4 linked regions of the Homo sapiens genome follow. The protein of the gene in region 1 interacts with the protein of each later gene in a biochemical or structural test. Each region holds a gene or a part of one and is shown on either strand. Other genes may lie near its edges.

What was found. The genes of interacting proteins can lie anywhere in the genome.
Region 2: the proteins of WWOX (region 1) and PABPC1 form a complex in vitro, tested with the Homo sapiens proteins (one study listed by BioGRID).
Region 3: the proteins of WWOX (region 1) and WIPF2 form a complex in vitro, tested with the Homo sapiens proteins (one study listed by BioGRID).
Region 4: the proteins of WWOX (region 1) and TFAP2C form a complex in vitro, tested with the Homo sapiens proteins (one study listed by BioGRID).

What each region holds. Positions count from the first base shown.
Region 1 is NC_000016.10:78,106,154-78,109,653, reverse strand, and holds part of WWOX (WW domain-containing oxidoreductase), read right to left. Parts: intron 1,232-3,500; coding exon 1,167-1,231; intron 1-1,166. UniProt on the Homo sapiens protein: Putative oxidoreductase. Acts as a tumor suppressor and plays a role in apoptosis. Required for normal bone development. May function synergistically with p53/TP53 to control genotoxic stress-induced cell death.
Region 2 is NC_000008.11:100,705,089-100,708,588, forward strand, and holds part of PABPC1 (polyadenylate-binding protein 1), read right to left. Parts: intron 1,910-3,500; coding exon 1,799-1,909; intron 1,718-1,798; coding exon 1,563-1,717; intron 586-1,562; coding exon 501-585; intron 1-500. UniProt on the Homo sapiens protein: Binds the poly(A) tail of mRNA, including that of its own transcript, and regulates processes of mRNA metabolism such as pre-mRNA splicing and mRNA stability.
Region 3 is NC_000017.11:40,222,304-40,225,803, reverse strand, and holds part of WIPF2 (WAS/WASL-interacting protein family member 2), read right to left. Parts: intron 1-3,500. UniProt on the Homo sapiens protein: Plays an active role in the formation of cell surface protrusions downstream of activated PDGFB receptors. Plays an important role in actin-microspike formation through cooperation with WASL.
Region 4 is NC_000020.11:56,635,806-56,639,305, forward strand, and holds the end of TFAP2C (transcription factor AP-2 gamma), read left to right. Parts: intron 1-804; coding exon 805-949; intron 950-1,922; coding exon 1,923-2,208; 3' UTR 2,209-3,478; downstream 3,479-3,500. UniProt on the Homo sapiens protein: Sequence-specific DNA-binding transcription factor that interacts with cellular enhancer elements to regulate transcription of selected genes, and which plays a key role in early embryonic development.

The sequences.
Region 1 (3,500 bases):
CATCAACTGGCTTTCGTCACATGTTCCAACTGCGACAGCTGCAGAAGGCCCCTGATCCCACCCTGGGCTCCACATTTTTGCCTCTTGTTTTGAAGAAAACCTATTTTATTCCTGATCGCTCTATAAACCATACTGGTTGTGCCAATCCATGGGAATTCTCCCTTGAATGAGCTCAAAGAACATATGTATATGCAGGGCAGGCACCCAACGTCATTCATACGCTGACCTCATATGACATTAGAGGGCACGGCCATTTTTTTTCATGTGCACATGTTGATTCTTCAGCTGGATCCTAAACCTCTTAAGGGCAGGAACCTTCTCATATTTTTTTTTGAGATGGGGTCTCACTATGTTGCCTAGGCTCACCTCGAATTCCCAGGCACAAGTGATCCTCCCACCTCTGCCTCCCAAAGGGCTGGGATCACAAGCACAAGCCACCGTGCCTGTCCCTTTCTTATACTTCTATTCCGTGGATCATACATTATCTCAGAATCACCTAGAAGTCATGGTAATCTTTACGAAATTTCCAAATACTTATATATTTAATTCCATAGTATAGCCAAGAACAATTTTATAAACACTGCAACGATAGGAAAACATCATAAACTGTGAATCAAAGGCCTCAATTATTTTCTGGTTTTTGTTGTTGTTGTTGTCGCTATTTTTCAGACAGCATCTCACTCTGTCACCGAGGCTGGAGCGCAGTGGTGTGATCTTGGCTCACTGCAACCTCCAGCTCCTGGGTTTGAGCACTTCTCGTGCCTCAGCCTCCAAAGTAGCTGGAATTACAGGCGCATGCAACCATGCCCAGCTAATTTTTGTATTTTTAGAAGAGATGCGCTTTCAACATGTTGGCCAGGCTAGTCTCAAACTCCTGACCTCAGGTGATCCATCCGCCTCGGCCTCCCGAAGTGCTGGGATTACAGGCATGAGCCACCACATCTGGCCATTTTGGTACTTTAAGACCAGTAAGAAATCATCCTCACTCCACCCTATGATCTCATCATCTTCTTCTGCCAAATCCCATAAGCTCCTCAGAGTGGGAGTCTGGTTCTCTACCAGAGAGCCCTCCCTAAACACACAATAACCTGTCACCTCTCTGCCAGTGACATTTCCTCATCTACTTAATGCTTCCATCCAAGATCCTTAGACAACAACATACAAACCTCCTGCCACTCGTTTTCTTTTTCCAGTTTTTGGATGTTCCCACTGAGTCTTCTCCTCGGTGTGACTGTTAAAAAACAAAAAATCCACAGTAATAAGTAAAAATTAACTCTTCTAAAAAGTAATCAATTGTATTAAATTTTTTCTCTCCCAGATAGCCAGATATAAGAAGGAAGTAGGGGGAAGAAGGAGAAAGAGGACTGTGACCCCAGCTACGGGGTCAACTTTAGGAGGTTTGCTGAATCACTCAAAATATCTAGAGGCCGTCGGGAGCGGTGGCTCACACCTGTAATCCCAGCACTTTGGGAGCCCTAGGGGAGCAGATCACAAGGTCAGGAGATGGAGACCATCCTGGCCAACATGGTGAAACCCTGTCTCTACCAAAAATACAAAATTAGCTGGGGACAGTGGCACGTGCCTGTAGTCCCAGCTACTCGGGAGGCTGAGGCAGGAGAATCGCTTGAGCCAGGGAAGCAGAAGTTGCAGTGAGCCGAGATCACGCCGCTGCACTCCAGCCTGGCGACAGAGCAAGACTCTGTCTCAAAAATAAATAAATAAATAAATAAATCTAGAGGCATTTTGCTGTGTATTTGTTTTGGTTTTATTCCACGATGTAGGGACAAAATTCATAATATCTAATTTATATAATCTCTTAAAATGTTTATTTATTTGTGTTTCTTTTTAAAGAATCAGGGTCTCACTATGTTGCCCAGGCTGGACTGGAACTCCTGGACTCAAGTAACCCTCCTATTTCAGCCTCTTGAGTGGCTGGGACTAGAAGCCCGTGCCACCTTGCCCAGCTAAAATGTTTATTCTTTCCACAGATGTAACTTCAAAGTGTTTCATTAAGCACTGGTTCCTAACTGGTCCCAAGAGGTAGTTAAGAGATGCAGTAAGACCTTCCCATAGGGCATCTAGCTGTGCGCTGTGCACCTTTGGTCAAGTGACCCCACTCCTTAATCTCCATCCCCTCATCTGCAAAATGGAAATAATCCTAGCACTGGTCTCAGGGGCTACTATAAGAATATTGTACATCCAGGGTTTCGCATAGCACTTGGCATACAAAAAGCTCTGAGAAATGTAAGCTGTTATTCTGAACAAATCAGTTACACAAACTAGTCCTATTTTTGCGTCAAACTTAACATTTCATTTCAGACCACCACCCAAAGTTATAATTAAAAACATAGGTCAATAACTAGAAACACGTGTCACCAGGTAATAAGGTATCCAGGAAAACATACAATTATTTCAAAAGGGAAACAGCCAGGTGCTACAAGAGGTATTCGAAGGGTAGGCTGCGTTTCCTAAAAGTTCACCTACTCATGCCAACCCAGAAAGTTATATTATTTAATCAGCAACATCTAGATGATAAGATGTGAACATTCTTTCCCTATCAATTATTTTACAGAAAATAAATACAGAGAGCACGAATTTTCTAAAAAATTCTACAACTTGCAAGCAAGGTCTTTTCATGAACTGCTGGCTTCTGGTCTGTTTGACAAAGTCTTGGCAGCTGGGTCTCTGTCATAGTGCAGGAATGCCTCACTCAGCACGCTGAAGACCTGAGCAGCCCATGCTAGCTGAGTCCAGCCAGTCTCCTCAGGGCTACTGCCACCTCACAGAGCTGCTGAAAAGGCGAGACACATGACACCTGTGACAGTGCTTGGAGAACGATTAAAACCTTGTACCAGCTACGGTATCAGTAGCAAGGACAAACTCCTACTTTGTACATCAACCACCATCCAATATCACTTGCAAAAAAAAGCAGCTCTGTGGCCGGGCGCGGTGGCTCATGTCTGTAATCCCAGTACTTCAGGAGGGCAAGGCAGGCGGATTACCTGAGGTCAGGAGTTCGCGACCAGCCTGAACAACATGGAGAAACCCTGTCTCTACTAAAAATACAAAATTAGCCTGGCGTGGTGGCACATGCCTGTAATCCCAGCTACTCGGGAAGCTGAGGCAGGAGAATTGCTTCAACCCGGCAGGCAGAGGCTGCGGTGAGCTGAGATCGTGCACTCCAGCCTGGGCAACAATTGTGAAACTCCATCTCAAAAAAAAAAAAAAAAAACAAAAAAAAACCGTTCTGACTCTCTGGCTCTCTAGTAAGGATAACCCGCTCTCTGCTGGCACAGTGGGAATATTGGTATACCAACTCCTGCTTCTCCTTCAAAATGAATGGCAACAGCAATCAGATAAACCAAGCATTGGCAATAACATGAAACCTTCCAGCCCCTTGCAGAGCTGTGTCTCAAGCTTCTTCAAGAAAGTTAAGAGATGGACTTGCATTTTCCTTGCCTGCCATTAAAAGCAGTCTTTATCTCATAGGCACACATCAA
Region 2 (3,500 bases), on another chromosome or scaffold:
ATAAAAAAAAGTTTTTAACTGCATTGAATTACCACATTAAACTGGGGTTTAAGAACCATACTTCTGTCTCACGTATATAATAACCCATAATCCACAATTTCATTATGTCTTCATGGGAAGACAGAATAAAATCTGCCACAAGGCAATTAACTCTTGATATTATCAGCTTGCCAATTAAGCAATGTTACCATTAGGTTGTTAAATCGGTGTTCAGGCAAAGTCACAAGTTTTCTTCTCATTTGCTTCAAATTCCTTCTCTCAAAAATGTAGTGAGGGCCCATGGTGAGTAATGCCCTACTACCCTATTTATTACTAACAATACATTTTCTTATTGGCTTTCCAGTGGTTTTAATTAGGCAGACCAACTGTACTATCATAATCATTCATGCCAATTCAGATCAATTCCACTGCCCTAGCTGTCAATTGATTGACCTAGTGCCTAAGTGATTCCTATATTTTCTAGTCTTTCTGAACTGACAAGGTGGGACAGAAGTACTCACCCAACATTTGCTTTTGCTCTTGAGGAGGGGCAGATGCCAACATGGAAGCAGTCAAAGGTTCCTGACCTTGTACATGAACAGCAGGCTAGACAGAAAATGAGAACTCTTAAGTTTAAAGCACAGAAAAAGATGGCAAATACAAATAGTCATCAATGGACATCTGCTGAAGTGGTAGACTTCCATCGAAACATGAGGTGGAGAAGTTGAGTGAGCGAATTAGAAAGAAGCCAAAGTAGTTATTATATACTATGTATCACAGATACATTTTTTTTCTTTTTGAGATGGAGTCTCACTTTGTCGCCCAGGCTGGAATGCAACGGCACAATCTTGGCTCGCTGCAACCTCCGCCTCCGGATTCAAGCAACTTTCCTGCCTCAGCCTCCCCAGTAGCTGGGATTACAGGCATGTGCCACCAAGCCTGGCTAATCTTTATATTTTTAGAGCTGGGGTTTCACCCTGTTGACCAGGCTGGTCTCAAACTCCTGACCTCAAGTGATCCACCTGCCTTGGCCTCCTGAAGTGCTGGGATTACATAGAGGTGTGAGCCACCACGCCTGGCCCATAGCTACTTGTAATAGTTGTTTCAGACCAGGCGTGGTGATTTAGGATGTGAATTTCTCGCTGCTTGTCCAATTCCAAAAGCGTAAGACATTTTACATACTATCATATTAGCAGAATGTTCCAGATAGGCTAAGCTCTCAAGAATCTATCATGCAGCTGTCTTCACATTTTTTCTTTTGAGACAGAGTCTTGCTGTCACCCAGCAGGGATTACAGCTTGCTGCAGCCTTAAACTCCTGGGCTCGAGCAATCCTCCTGCCTCAGCCTTCCTAGCAGCTAGGACTACAGGCTTATGCCACCACACCCAGCTAGTTTTCTTTGTGGAGACAGGGTCCTGTATGTTGCCCAGGCTGGTCCCAAACTCCTGGTCTCAAGCAATCTGCCTGCCTCAACCTCCCAAAGTGCTGGGGTTATAGGTGTGAGCCACTGTGCCCAGCTGTCTTCACACCTTTGATTTCACCCAAGAAATGTGATTTTTATTAAGAAATCATTAAATCCATACCTGTTGCATTGTAACTTGTGGCTGTGCATTAAGATGTTGCTGAGGATTGCGAACTCCTGCAGCATATTTATACTGTGGAACGGTGCGGACAGCAGGAGTAGCTGCAGCGGCTGCAGCTGCAGGACGTGGACCCATTGTCTGTGTTGATGTGTTAGCTAAAAAATAAGAACATTTTGTATTTTTATCTTGCTCTTTCAAATTGGTGATCAATTTTTAAAGGAAGGATTAAGACTCACCAACACGCTGTGTTGACATGACTCGTGGAACCTGTGAAGAAGCTGGTCTCATAGTACTAAATGGTGGTCTAGGAGCAGCTGGGCGGATAGCACCGGGCATATTTTGGAATGCTGCATTTTAAAGATGTGAATATACATTAACTGGGAAAACTTACTGAGTGAAAAGTGTTTATGCTGTCTTCTTCGATCTGAGGTTTGCATAAAAGACTAAAAAGTGACAAAACTTTTTAAAGCTGAGTCTTAACACTTGCCATTTTCCCAGACTCAGAGCATCAATAAGTAAAAACATTAATTCATACAAGGACGAGTACTTATATGTAGCGACCAGCCCCACAGGGTCGGTGGGCTTCTCCCTGTATGCAGCGACGAGAGAGTGCAGAAATAAAGACACGAGACACAGAGATTTAAAAAAAAAAGACAGCTGGGCACGGGGGACCACTACCACCAAGACGCGGAGACCAGTAGTGGCCCTGAATGTCTGGCTGCACTGTTATTTATTGGAAACAAAACACAAGGGGCAGGGTAAAGAGTGTGAGTCATCTCCAATGATAGGTAAGGTCACGTGGGTTACGTGTCCACTGGAGAGGGGGCCCTTCCCCGCCTGGCAGCCGAGGCAGAGAGGGAGAGGAGACAGAGAGAAAGACAGCTTACGCCATTGTTTCTGCATATTAGAGACTTTTAGTACTTTCACTAATTTACTACTGCTATCTAGAAGGCAGAGCCAGGTGTACAGGATGGAACATGAAGGCAGACTAGGAGCGTGACCACTGAAGCACAGCACCATAGGGAGACGGTTAGGCCTCTGGATAATTGCAGGCAAGCCTGACTGATGTCAGGCCCTCCACAAGAGGTGGAGGAGCAGTCTTCTCTAAACTCCCCAGGGGAAAAGCAGACTCCCTTTCCCGGTCTGCTAAATAGTGGGTGTTTTCCTTTGACACTTACGCTACTGCTAGACCTCGGTCCGCCTGGCAACGGGCGTCTTCCCAGACGCTGGCGTTACCACTAGACCAAGGAGCCCTTTGGTGGCCCTGTCTGGGCATAACAGAAGGCTCGCACTCTTGTCTTCTGGTCACTTCTCACTATGTCCCCTCAGCTCCTATCTCTGTATGGCCTGGTTTTTCCTAGGTTATGATTATAGAGTGAGGATTATTATGATATTGGAATAAAGAGTAATTGCTACAAACTAATGATTAATGATATTCATATATAATCATATCTAAGATCTATATCTGGTATAACTATTCTTATTTTATATTTTATTATATTGGAACAGCTCGTGTCCTCGGTCTCTTGCCTTGGCACCTGGGTGGTTTGCCGCCCACACTTATAAATATACCTGAAACATAATCATGATAAAATTCTAAGTGCTCCCAGCCTGGCCAACAGGGCAAAATCCCGTCTCTACAAAAAATTTAAAAAATTAGCTGGGCGTGGTGGCGTGTGCCTGTAGTCCCAGCTACTTGGGAGGCTGAGGCAGGAGGATCACCTGAACCCGGGAGGTGAAAGCTGCAGTAAGCCAAGACCATGCCACTGCACTCCAGACTAGAAGAAAGAGTGAGACTCTGTCTAAAAAAATAAACTCTAAGTGCTCTTGGAATATAACATACTGTTCCACAGGACAAGACATAAAATACCACGACTCTGATTCTCATACATGATTAAATGGAACGAGACCTTTAAAACTGTGGCCTGACAAAATATG
Region 3 (3,500 bases), on another chromosome or scaffold:
GCGCCTGTAGTCCCAGCTACACAGGAGGCTGAAGTGGGAAGAACACCTGAGCCTGAGCCTGGGGAGGTCGAGGCTACAGATCACGCCGCCACACTCCAGCCTGGGCAAGAGAGAGAGATCCTGTCTCAAAATAAAAAGGGAATGATCTTCACGATCCATCCCAAAACATATTGGAGATAACCCTACCTTTAGCTAACTATCCCCTGAAAAACAAGAGAGTATTTACTAAGTAGAACACATTGTTGGATAGCCATTCCAAATTGCTCTAACTTTGCCAAGCTTAAATGGCAAGGAAGAAACCAATTCCTGGCTCCCCTATTTGATAACTTACATACTTCTGCAGGCTCTTAAGCCAAAATGAGCCAAAATCTTAAAGAGAGTTAAGACTGACATAGACATTAGCAAACATATCACCTTTTTTTCCTATTAACATTGTTGTTCCCCATAAAGGTCTATTCAGCATTTTTTTTTTAGTAGCCCTCTGTAGATATCAAGAAATGCTCATAAATTTAGCCTGTAGTTCCTCAGGCTCAATGGCTTGTGAGAAAAGAAAAAAAAAAAAAAAGTTGGAAATACTGTCTTCTCTTCCACAATGCCCACGAAGCTAGGCAAAGGCAATGATTCTGCATTTAATCACTAGATGAATAAGAAACAGACTTGAATTTAGAAGAAAGATAAAGGACCGCAAGAACATTCAGTAAAGAGTACTGCCTCTATTTCTTTGCAAAGCAGCTCTCAGGATCTGCCAATGAACCTCATTTTGACATGGAACGCCCCATCCACTCTAATCCGGGGCATATCCCTCAAGACACAGTCAGTCAACCGGAACTCTGCCAACTTTTGCTTGGGAGTTGTGTGAAGAATAGTAGCAACAAGAGCCTACTTTGAGAAGGAGATCAACAATCACACTCAAGAAGAAAAGAAGTTATTTGGCAAAGGGATGCATGTTGCCAAAATGTTAGTCACAGCTTCAAGGGCCCAGTTTGTGTCTCTACAACTATTCTTTGCTTTGACAGAGGCCATTATCTGACCCAGGAAACAGCTCAGCTTCTGTCACCCTCCCCATCTGAAGCAGTGAAGAATCCTTTCAATTTGGTAGTATCAAACTGTGACACAGACAAGATGTCCACCAGAGACTAAAAGGGGAGAAAAAATGTGTAATTTGCCACTTTCTACATAGGACTGGCTCAAGCAGAGCAACGGAAAACTGTGACAGGATAGGAAAAATGGAAAATCATTATGTTAAAGAAGCAGGCTGGGCCGGGCGCGGTGGCTCACGCCCGTAATTTCAGCACTTTGGGAGGCCGAGGCGGGTGGATCACAAGGTCAGGAGATCAAGACATCCTCGCTAACAAGTTGAAACCCCGTCTCTACTACAAAAAAAAAAAAAAAAAAAATACAAAAAATCAGCCGGGCGTGGTGGCAGGCGCCTGTAGTCCAGCTCCTCAGGAGGCTGAGGCAGGAGAATGGCGTGAACCTGGGAGGCGGAGCTTGCAGTGAGCCGAGATTGCGCCACTGCACTCCAGCCTGGGGGACAAAGTGAGACTCCGTCTCAAAAAAAAAAAAAAAAAAGAAAAGAAAAGAAAAAAAAAATAAGCAGGCTGTACCAAAAGTCCGCCCAGGAGCACCGAGCCTCCATATGTTATCTCAAAATCCCCTTAAAAAACAAACCAAAAAGGTACACTGTAGGTTGCAATAGCATAATATTAAGCAGGTTTTTACTCCCAAATAAGTACATATATTTTGTAGCCTGCAACTCTTCCTGGGGTTGTAAGAAGACTATGTTTGCTGAAGCTGCCTGAACCAAGAGCCCATGAATTTCACAGTTATTTCAGAGCAGGAAAACAGACTAACATATACCAGGTTACTCTCCCAATCAGAGAACACAAGTAAAGAAAGAACATTTAATAATTTTCTCGGGCCGGGCGCGGTGGCTCACGCCTGTAATCCCAGCACTTTGGGAGGCCGAGACTGGCAGATCACAAGGTCAGAAGTTCGAGACCAGCCTGACCAACACAGTGAAACCTCGTCTCTACAAAAATACAAAAATTAGCCAGGCGTGATGGCACCCAGCTACTCAGGAGGCTGAGGCAGGAGAATCGCTTGAACCTGGGAGGTGGAGGTTGCAGTGAGCAGAGATCATGCCATTGCACTCCAGCCTGGGCAACTGAGCGAGACTCCGTCTCAAAAAAAAAAAAAAAAAACCCAAAAAAAAATTTTCTCTTCAACAGAACAAGACTTCTGTCTCTTGCCTCTTGCCTTTTTTTTTTCCTAAAAACACCTAGTGAGTCTAGAATCTCTTCCCTTCGTAAAAGCCATCAGTAAAACCTGAAAACTCCAATGTTCACACCTCTCCTGCATTTCACCTTGGTGCTATCACATAACTTATCAGTACCAGCTAGGGTAAACACTACTCTAGTATCAAGTGTGAGGTGGAATTAGTAAATGACCAGCCTGGCCAACATGGCAAAACCCTGTCTCTACTAAAAATACAAAAATTAGCCAGGTGGCACATGCCTGTAATCCCAGCTACTTGGGAGGCTGAGCCAGGAGAATTGCTTGAACCCAGGAGACAGAGGTTGCAGTGAGCCAAGATTGTGCCATTGCACTCCAGCCTGGGCAATACAGCAAGACTCTGTCTCAAAATAAATAAATAAACAAATAAAAAAACAAACACTACATTCTACTAGTCTTCATCAATTGACTTCATTCATCTCCACCTTCCCCAACTCTTAACTTCCCTATCTTCATCTTGATGGCAACCAATGTAACACAATATGAAATTTTTACTTTTAAAAGTTGACATTAATAAGAGTTAAAAAACTAAACATGCGGCCAGGTGTGGTAGCTCATGCCTGTAATCTCAACACTTTGGGAGGCCGAGGTGGGTGGATCACCTGAAGTCAGGAGTTCGAGACCAGCCTGACCAACATGGTGAAACCCCATCTCTACTAAAATACAAAAAATTAGCTGGGCGTGGTGGTGCATGCCTATAGTACCAGTTACTTGGGGGACTGAGGCAGGAGAAGCGCTTGAATCCGGCAGGCGGAGGTTGCAGTGAGCCAAGACTGCGCCATTCCACTCCAGCCTGGGCAGCAGGAGCGAAACTCTGTCTCAAAAAAAAAAAAAAAAAAAAAAAAAAAAAAAAACTGAATATGCATCAAATCAAAACCAGTTCTTCCCTGGCTGGCACGCAGACACACACACACACACACAAACACACACACACATGAGCAAGGCTAAGAGGAAGAAACAGAAAAACATGTTTCCTTTTGTTGTTGTTGTTGTTGTTGTTGAGGTGGAGTTTCGCTCTTGTTGCCCAGGCTGGAGTGCAATGGCGCGATCTCAGCTCACTGCAATCTCAGGTGATCCACCACCTTGGCCTCCCAAAGCGTTGGGATTATAGGCATGAGCCAGCGCGCCCAGCCTTGTTTTCCTTTAAGAGACAGGTCGGCCAGGCGCGGTGGCTCACACCTGTAATCCCAGCACTTTGGGAGGCC
Region 4 (3,500 bases), on another chromosome or scaffold:
AAATGTTATATTTGTATATAACCTACACACATCCTTCCGTATAGTTTAAATCATCTCTGCATCACTTACTTATAATACCTAATACTATGTAAATGCTATGTAAATAGTTGTTACATTGTATTGCTCAGGGAATAATGGCAAAAGTCTGTGTGTGTTCAGTACAGACACAACCATTCATTATTTCCCCCCCGAATCTTTTCAATCTGAGTTTGGATGAATACAGATTCTGAACCCACGGATACAGAGGGCTGACTTGATTGTGCAGTTAGAAGTTTCAGGGTCTTTTCTGCTCACATTGTGTGATCTCCACCCTCTATTCCTGGGGTGGAGGACCTACTGAGAATCCCTAGAAAGTTCTACCTACCAGCTGAGTTGTCTGCCCTGTATATGATTTCGTTCTTGCATGCAACGTATGACTGGTAGACAATGAATACTACTAGAAAGAGAGAAAATGGGGGCTGGGTGCTGTGGCTCATGTCTATAATCCCTGGCATGAGCCATTGGTTGAGACCAGGAGCTCAAGACCAGCTGGCCAATGTGGCAAAACCCTGTATCTACTAAAAATACAAAAATTAGCTGGGTATGGTGGTGCATGTCTGTAATCCCAGCTATTCAGGGGCTGAGGCACGAGAATTGCTTGAATTCCGGAGGTGGAGGTTGCAGTGAGCAGAGATCGGGCCACTGCACTCCAGCCTGGGCAACAGAGCGAGACTCCGTGTCAAAAAAAAAAAAAAAGAGAGAGGAAAAGGGCAGTTTGGCCTCAGTGACCACAGCCATCCTAAAAGCTGTTGCTGATTATTCTAGGTGAAGCTGTTCATTTGGCTAGGGACTTTGCCTATGTCTGTGAAGCCGAATTTCCTAGTAAACCAGTGGCAGAATATTTAACCAGACCTCATCTTGGAGGACGAAATGAGATGGCAGCTAGGAAGAACATGCTATTGGCGGCCCAGTAAGTATCTGAACTTGAATTTGATGATGACTCAATGCTCTAGACCTTGAGGTTGAGAAGATTCCCCCTCCACAGTCCCGATGGCTCAACAAAGAAATATTCTTGAAATAAATTAGGGTGGAGCAAAAGAAAATGGCAAGGGAGCTTCTTTTACAAAGTCAAATACATTAACTTTTTGTATGATTTAGAAGAGTGCATGACTCAGCCATGAGTATTTTTGAGCTGCTTAGTTATTCAACCCAAAGTAGTTGAGCTGCCCTTTCATTATTGTGTTAGCATATCTTACAAAAATGTGTTGAAAACCCGATTTGTTTTGTCACAACCAGTAAAGAGAGATTGTGTGCCTTCTACCTCCTGATAGCAAGACTTTTGTCTTTCAAATGTAAAGATCAGGGTGGATTTGTGGGCAAATTAACTGTCTCCAAAACGACTTAATGCAGCTGTGGGTTTTCTCATAGAAACCAACAGTAAGTTGATTTGAAAATGATGGTAAATGAAGCAGAACTAGTCGAGCCAGGAAATGGGGTAAAAGAGAGCGCAGTGAACCAGGCTGTGTCAGGAGTCAGAATTTCAGGGGGATGCTTCCTTCTCCCGGTTCCTCACGGAATTTGTTTATTGGAACCAACTTGTACCAAGGTAAACTGTCCCTTAAGCTCATGGGTTGGAATCCAGGCCCCATTACTTTTACCAGTCCTGGTGACCTTGGCCAGTTAGCTGGGGTTAAGTTAATCCTGTTGTCTTTTCTAATTGCAGTGAGGATTAAATAAGATAGTGCTTTAAAACAGCTTAACTCAGAGCCTGGCGCAGAATAGTTGCTAAGCGCAGCAGTTGGCTATTAGTATTAAATTCTCCTTCCTCGGGTTGAAGCAGTTGTGCTTGCCTCCCGGGCGCCAGCCTCAGTGTAGTTGGTTCTGTGCTCTTGACCTGTAAGGAGCTAGATGGAACTCATCGAGTCAACTGACTGTCTTCACAGGCAACTGTGTAAAGAATTCACAGAACTTCTCAGCCAAGACCGGACACCCCATGGGACCAGCAGGCTCGCCCCAGTCTTGGAGACGAACATACAGAACTGCTTGTCTCATTTCAGCCTGATTACCCACGGGTTTGGCAGCCAGGCCATCTGTGCCGCGGTGTCTGCCCTGCAGAACTACATCAAAGAAGCCCTGATTGTCATAGACAAATCCTACATGAACCCTGGAGACCAGAGTCCAGCTGATTCTAACAAAACCCTGGAGAAAATGGAGAAACACAGGAAATAAAATTGGAACGAAGAAAGGTTAGGAGAGTAGGGAAGGAACAGGACTGCAAAAATCCTTCTCCACCGCACAGACTGGGAACCCCTCCTGGCCTGGGGGAAGAGTTTGTTACCTACCTTACTATTTAAAGAGCCTTCACTGGTTCTGCATCACCCGCCCCTGGACTTCTTAGTTGTTTCTCTAGCGCTGAGCTATCTCCTAACTTTGGACCTATTATCAGAAGGTGACAAGTACTGGCTCTTTATTCATTAAGCTTTTTTTTTTTGAACCCCATTCTTTCCTTCTCTGAAAGTGGTGCTATAAGTTTTAGAATCTTTTAAATACATTCCCTGGGCCAACAGACCCACACACTTAGCCATTGAAATGTCAAATTGATGTGCCCTAGATCAACAGATCAACAATACCTTTTTTTTCAGTGTTAAGGTAATGGTTGGTTTTTGTGTCCGCTAAATATTTACCTTGAAAAAAAGAAAAGTGTGTATCTAGCTTCTTCAGAGATCAAGTCCTCTGGTAGGAGGCAAAGGTTCTATCTGCTTAGCAACTAGTTAATAAGTGGTATCTGACACACTCTAAACCCCGTGTTCAAACGGGGGCCTTCTGGTTTTAGGAAACTTGTAGAAACGAAGCCTGCTGATTGATTTTTTTCTCCTTTTTTTTTTTTTTTTTTTTTAACTTTGAAAGTTAACTCTTCAAATGGGAGACTCTTTGAAATGACATGTTCCTTTAAGGTACTGAAGCTTTATTTGCATATTTATTTCAGATGTTTCGAGTAAACTTGAAAAGGGTAGGCACGAAGCAATTTGTTGCTGCTTGTCACCCCCAAGTCCCCGTGGAGGTTCTGTATTTTAAGAAACAGTGCGTTGAGTGTACAGATTTTATTTATGCGTAATTTAATGGGGTCTGTAAATACTGGTGCACTTCTTACGACTTTTTTGAGACATGGGATCCAATTTTAATATTAACTTTTAATGGTGATGGGGTAATCTATAACACATCATAAGGTTTTATTCATATATATACAGGGTATTAAGAATTAAGAGGATGCTGGGCTCTGTTCTTGGCTTGGAAGATTCTATTTAATTGAAACTCTCTGTTCAGAAAGCAATAACTTTGTCTCGTTCCTGTTGGGCTGAACCCTAAGGTGAGTGTGCAGTACAGTGTGTGTGGGTGAAATGGAGATTTGGAATTGAACTCTCTGCCTGTAAATGTTCCCCAAATAATTGTTGTGTGTATGATACGTGTATAATAAAAGTATTCTTGTTAGAATCTGAAAGTCTGGCTATAGGTTTTTGTTT